2 linked regions of the Homo sapiens genome follow. The protein of the gene in region 2 purifies or fractionates together with the protein of the main gene of each other region. This does not show direct contact. Each region holds a gene or a part of one and is shown on either strand. Other genes may lie near its edges.

Region 1 (3,500 bases), on a different chromosome or scaffold from region 2:
TTTGACATGTAGAAACCTTTAGAACTATCTGCTTTTTTATGGTTGCAGAAAAATTATATTTTAATATATGAAATTAATATTTAACTGGTAATTTGGTAATTTTAGCAGATGTGCAGAACTCAGTTTTTTTAAAAAAAAAGCCAGTGAAAGAGATTATAAAATGATGCACTTCTGTATTTTCTATATAAGGGCTGTCTGAGCTGGACTCAGAATTTGCTTACTTATTAGCTAAACACTTAAATTTTACATTGGAACATCAGTTTTTGTATATATTTCTATTAGAGTTGGGAACAGGGGAAAGATACATGATCTGATAAAGTTTCTCAAAAGTTAAGTGAAGATTTGGTTCATCAGAGTTTTGACAGGATATAAAATCTAAATGTTTTTTCTATTGAAAAAACAAGAAACCACTTTTTAAAATTCAGAGATGCATAGGCAGTAATTTGTTTTTTAAGTATAGAAGAAAAGAATTACTTGGTCAGGTGAATTAATATCAAGTAGTGGTAAGTCTATATGTCAGGTATGCAGACAGAGCTATCTTTGAGCCTCCAAAGCCAAAATACAGAAAACCAGGACAGCTTTCTGTTGTGTTTATTGTGTTAAAACAATTTAGCTGCTAATGATAGAGTTTTAAAGCCTGCAGTAGTTTTGAATGTTAGTACTTCCACATTTTTCAAAAGTACAACATCGTAATATCAGTCATCATATGCAGTGATTCTCATTTGGCAAGGTCATGCCCTTTGTAGGGTTGGGTAGTTCTGTTAGAATCTTTGGGTGGGGACATGCATAGTTTGCAAAGGTCTTCTCATGCTCCACGGTAAGAGGGATGGATTTTCTCTTACCGTGCTCCGTGGTAAAAGAAAAATTAGTTAACATTAATGTAAACACAATAGCATAATCAAACCAGAAAATTTATCATTATATGGAAGTAAGTGCATTCATCACCAGGAATGAGAAATGCTTTACTCTAGAGAATGTTGAAAATGCTTCAAGAAGAGGGTTTTAGTCAACAACGTTGGCATTTCTCAGGGTTGGAAGCAAGCAACTCTTGGAACACCTGAAGAACAACCAGTAATGTTTCTCTTCCTTTGTAGATGATTATACTGCCATTTTGAATTTTTAAGCTTCCTTGTGTAACTGTGCCAGTGATTGTCACCTCTGTAATTTTTTCAGTACCTATTGTTAAGCAGACTTGGGAGAGCCAGGCAAGTCTCATTGAATACTATAGTGACTATACTGAAAATTCCATTCCTACTGTGGATTTGGGAATTCCTAATACAGATAGAGGTGAGTCATAATTCTTACTACTCTCCTTATTAAACATTGCCATTCTGTAAATACAGTAAATTAGGTTAGGATAAAAATGAAATGTTTTATAAGTGCTATAATTTTTGCCTCATATTAGTTTTTTCCCTTCTCTCAGATACTGATTGGTTCTTTCAAACTAAGGGCTTTATAGTACGAAGTGTTGCAAGTTTTTAGTAGCTTATATCCTATAATTGAGCACATGATAGTTACAGCAGAATTTAACAATAGATTTTTCATACCTTCATAATTCTTTGCGACCATGATGGGGTGTTTATTATATTCCCACATAAAGCTTCTCTCCTTGTCAGTCTTATAGTCTAGTTCACATATTATATTACCCGTGAGTACCACCTAATCACATTCTACACTAGTTATATGTAGAATAAACTGTATTCTATATGTTAAGATTTTAATTAGTAAATTGTTGGAAATAAACCTGCTTTTCTCTTCAAATTGCAGGCTTTCTAATTAAAAACACTTTTTAGGACATACAGAGTGGAATGGTAGACATTGGAGACTCCAAAAGGTGGGAGAGTAGAAGAGGGGCGAGGGATGAGAAATTACCCACTGAGTACGATAGACACTCTTCGGGTGATGGCTTCACCAAAAGCCCAGACTTCACCACTGTACAATATGTCGATGTTACAAAACTGCACTTGTACCTCTTAAATCTATAAAAATTTTAAAAAATTGTGTCAAAAAATGGAAGTGAAAATTTGGCCACCTCATCTTCAGATATTCTTTATTCATCTTAAGTTTTATCCAGTGTTCCTGCCACCCTTTGTTCTTTAGTTTTTTTGTTCCCCATGCCCTTTTATGAGTAAAAAAAAAAAAAAAAAAAAAAAAAAGTAGCAAACTGATTATGTTCTATACAGTAATTTATCTTATTTTATGTTAGTGTCACTCATAATTCTTTCATTAATATAGTACAATGCAGAATCAGATATGCCATCTCTGTAGTTACCAATTCTTCTAACAAGGTTAAGTGTATTACTGAGTCTGTCTGTTGCTGTTTGATTTGGAAAAACGATTTTAGATTGGGTTTAATAATCATGTATTTACTTATACCTTATTTGATGTCTTCATTACTAGTCTGGTCTTATTGTCTATATTTATATTTGTTCTAAAAGGGATTTGAGGTGGCTTTGAAACACGTATTGTAATGGTTAAAAATACACAGAGATCAAGAGTAAAGAAAATAAAGGTCAAATTGAGTGGTTTAATAGTCATTAATATAAGTTAATATTTGTGCTCCACTGTGTCACCAAATAATTAAAATGAGGGGCATATTCCTGTTTATCAATTTGACTACTCTTCCCAAGTGTTTTATTTTTGTCCAGCATTTACCATTAAAGCATTGTAATTTATCTATTGGTATCTGAAGGACTGTTACTCTGTCTTACTCAGCACTATATCTTTAGTGCTTAGTACCTGCCACAGTATCTGGCATGTTAGAAACTTAGTGGTAGTAAATATTTACAAAATAAGTAAATGAAGGTATAAGCTTCCGCCTTTGCACTGCTGCTTCCCTGTGGCAGTGGTGCCTGGGGTTCTAACAGCTCCTTCAGAATAAGTTTATCTAAGAAAGGATGCCATTGCTCATTGCTGTGAGTCTTAAAACTTTCTTGCCTGGACTGAAGTTACTAATTCTATCTCTGCCTCAGATTATCTGTGTGACTGTGTAATTCCACTCATCTCTCTAGGTCTCCATTTCCTTGTGTGAGAAATGAATGGCTTGAATTTCATTATCTCTAAAGTTCCCACTGGTTCAATGTGTCTGTGAAAATTAGAGAAGGCTATTTTTAAAAATTTTGAACTTTTAAGCTGCATTTTGGCATGTAAGCTCTTAGAACACTTCAAAACTAAAAAGAAATGAACAAATTCTATATATTTTATAAGAAATAATACATTGTAAGTTTTTTTCTTGCCTTTTCTAGGTCATTGTGGAAAGACATTTGCCATTTTGGAAAGATTTCTGAATCGTAGCCAGGACAAAACAGCATGGTTAGTCATTGTGGATGATGATACATTAATAAGGTAAGGAGTCATTCTCATCCTAAATGGCTTTAAATTCTACATATATTCATATTCAAAAAACTAGATGGGTACTTTTTCTGGCCAAGATGAAGTAACGGGGACGGGGTTTACCCTTCTATCTGAACCAATCCTCTTAAGGAACAAAATATATAAAA
Region 2 (3,500 bases):
TCTTTGGGTTTATTTACAGAGCTAGCACTTCTAGGCATGGGCCCCCAGCTTCCTGTGTAAAGATGAAAACTGCAATCCTTCCACTTCAGCCAGACGCAAATAACTGGCTGGGAACCACCCAACTGACAGGGACTTCTCTTGCTCCCTGCATAAACCACCAGGGGAAGGAAGGCTGAGTTTAACAGAGACTCAGACGACAAGATTTAAATAAATAAGCTGTATTATCTGTACAAAAAATACAAATACAGTTTTGTGTTTTAGAGGAGAAAGTGCCTCCTTCCACATTAGCCAGCAGCCTTCATTGTCTTGTGGTGCTGCTGAGTTGCAATTCACAGAACAAACATTAAATGTACATTCATTTCATGCAACGAGCATTCTGCTTCCCACCCAAACCTAGGTTCTGCCAGCTCACTGAGACCCACTGCCAACTGCTCCAACCCAACATGGAGCTGGAGGATGCTTGCTCTTTAGGAAATGTAAATAGTGACCACTGATTTTCAATCACTATCGAACTAGAAATAATTAACCACATTAGTAGTAGTATGGAATTTGTCTGTCTTTATCATTCCATGCATAACTATTATGCCACAAATGAATTCCCTCTTACTGCCTCAGCATCCCATGTTAGTTTTTACAACACATCCTGTACAGTGAATGGATCCAGAGTTAAACACCAGGTTCTATTAAAAATAGGAAAAATATAATAATCACTACTGAGTTTACAGGAACACAACTGCAGGAAGTTAGTTAATAAAGTCCCCCCAATAGTTTTGTTTCTGGATGACAATGTACAATTATTAATATTGCACTTTTTTAATAAGAAATCCTAATAAATATTCACAAAAGATATACAGACATAGAAAACATTCTTTTTTATTTTAAACAGACTTTACACTGATTTTTTAGTAACATGATTTCTTAGAGCCTGTTTTTGTGGTGAAGAAGAAGGAGACCCAACTTAAACCTGTCCACAGCTCACTAGGTGGGGACACAGATTAATATTGTCTTCCTCTCAAATTTTACTTCCAGGCTGGCTGGAAATGCAGCCCTGATGTCAATGGTAGCCCGGGGTGAGTGGCATTTCATGAGGGGAGGCTTATCTGTGGGTAAGGGACTCTGGCCACCCTTGCTCCTAAACTCAGGCCACGCGAGGGAAGGAGGCAAAAATTACTTGGCCAAAGCTGCTCGGCTTAATGAGGATTTTGCCGAAGAGTCCCAGAGTTTTCATTTTGCTGCATGACTTTGACTTTGCTCCAGCCGCCTCACCACAGCTGATGAGTGTGGCTGCAGTGTGTGAGCTGCTTTGCCAGGGTGCTGCCTCCACCACCCCGCCTTGCTAGATAAATACTACATGCCGGAGGACCTGCAGACCCTGGGGTGGAGGCTGGGAGAGGGAGGGTGTACTGTGGACACGCATAAACCCATTGTCCCACCCCGGTCCCTGGGCCAGCTCTGGAATGAAGAGGTTGCTACAACCTGACAGCCTGACAGATACTCTCTGGCACAGTGACTAGTTAATGGGTTGATGTTGATAAGTTAACCATAGTCCCTGGCCCTTCGGTGGAGCAGCAAAGGTCCTAGAAGGCAAAAAACCTGGGCCATTCATGCTCAAAATGGCCCTGGCCCACAGCAGCAGTTAGTTAGTGCGGGGCTAGGGGACTTCGGATTTAGATAAAGAGGTGCCAGGGTGGCCTTACTGCATGGCGAGACCCACCTCTCACTGGCTTTGCTGCAGCTGCACAGGCAGGACGTTGACTCTGATAGCTTGGGAAGTGGGGACTCCCACGCAGCGCAGTGCTCTGTTGTGGGCAGCAGGGCTCTGAGCATGCGCACATGCATGGGATCAGAGCTGGTCCATGAGCCTCATGCAGCCTGGAAGCCCCTGCTCACCCTGCCCCACTGGGGAACACCACAGGCTCCTTTTTGCTTCTGTCCCTTCCCTCCCCTCCCTTCCTCATTTTCTGCAATGTTGTGTGCCTTAGAGCCTGCTTTGTTTGCTTTTTTACCTCTCCCTACTGGTGATCTGAGTTCTTCTCTCTCTGCACTCACCCACTAGAAGAACTGAGTGAGTTCTGGGCTAGTTTCTGCCTCAGCATGGTGTCCCCTCCCCATTTGTCCTAACTGTGACTAAAGGGACATAGATGGGGAAGAGGAGACAAAGGAGCAAAACACTCCTGTGTTTGTGATAGTGCGCTTCTAGGAAAGACACAGGAATTTGTCCAATGTTTGCACCAATAGGCTACAAACCTTCTGGCTCCCTGCTGTCCGCAGGGGCTGTGCCTGCCTCTTTCTAGGTCTTTGAGACCCAGGTTTGGGAGGGAGGAAGCTCTTCAAGGGAGCCCCCACTGTCTGCCTGGCCTGCTCTGCAACCTCCTTTAGACATCTGTCCTTTCCTTTCCCAACATCCTGTCCTCCAGCTAACTGAAAGAGAAAACACGCGGACGTCCTTATGCTTGAAGGTGGAGGTGGAGGAGGTTGGAAGGGTGTGTGTGGAGTGGGGAGGGGGAAATAAATAAATAAAATGAAGAAAGCTTAGGTTCTGTCCGAGGTGGTTGCGTGAGTCCTTCGTGTGGCCAGGGTAGAGTTTTTCCCCACACCCTATCTTCACGCTTTGCCACAAGTTCCACAGCAGCGAGATTTAAACTGGCTGAGTTGGCAGAGTTTCAGCTGTTTCACCTTCTCGCAGTACCTGGTGGTGTCTCTGCACTCCACTGGGAAAGGAGGACGGGGTCGGGAGAGGAGACAGAAAAGAGATGTGAAACAGAGACTAATGAACGCAGCCTGTGTGAGGTGCAGCCGGGGGTTTCAGCCACTGGGGTACATCCTGGGGTCTGCCTTGGCCACCGCTCTCCAGCCTAACTTTGACAGAGCTCAGCCACTTGCTCCCCAAGGCTGCCAACAGCAGGGGTGGCACCAGCCTGCAGCTGTCTGGCTGAATGATGGGGCCCCTCCCTGGGCTGTCTGCTTGTTTTCTGCAGCTCCCTCTACTTCCTGAAGGTGCCTGTTTTCTCTATCTTCTTGGGATTACCTCATCTCCTAGGTGATCACCTCTCCCCCTAGGCAAACCTGCCTTTTCCCGTGGGTTTTGGTATTTTAAGTAAATGACTCTCCTCCTCAAGATGGTTCCCAGCACTGCATCCTCCCCGACTTTGCAGGAGTGTGAAGTGAGACTTGCGTCGGGTGCCCCCATCCCCAGGCACTTGGGCCTACTTTCTCTGTTAAGCTTTATTTTCATGTGCCCTCCAGTCTCTCTTCCTTCTACCCATCATGCCTTAAACACAGCACCAGGACGTTCTAGTTCAGTGTTGGCACAGACTAGATGGTCTTAAATATTGTGCTGACTTGGTTTGGTAAGTTTTAACTATGTGCGTTGAATATTGGCGCTCTCTGAGCATGGTGAGCCACTGACACAAACATGGGTTAACACTACCCGAGTACAAAGATCATCCATCCCCCAGCGTGTAAAAAGAAGTGGGCTATTTGCCTACATGGCGTCTGCC

Evidence for each region. The genes of interacting proteins can lie anywhere in the genome.
Region 1: the proteins of ADAMTSL1 (region 2) and B3GLCT purify together in Homo sapiens (affinity purification with mass spectrometry; 2 studies listed by BioGRID and IntAct, with this or other methods). This does not show direct contact.

Annotation. Positions count from the first base shown.
Region 1 is NC_000013.11:31,283,475-31,286,974, forward strand, and holds part of B3GLCT (beta-1,3-glucosyltransferase precursor), read left to right. Parts: intron 1-1,173; coding exon 1,174-1,287; intron 1,288-3,245; coding exon 3,246-3,345; intron 3,346-3,500. UniProt on the Homo sapiens protein: O-glucosyltransferase that transfers glucose toward fucose with a beta-1,3 linkage. Specifically glucosylates O-linked fucosylglycan on TSP type-1 domains of proteins, thereby contributing to elongation of O-fucosylglycan.
Region 2 is NC_000009.12:18,907,653-18,911,152, reverse strand, and holds the end of ADAMTSL1 (ADAMTS-like protein 1 isoform 4 precursor), read right to left. Parts: intron 2,712-3,500; coding exon 2,605-2,711; 3' UTR 203-2,604; downstream 1-202.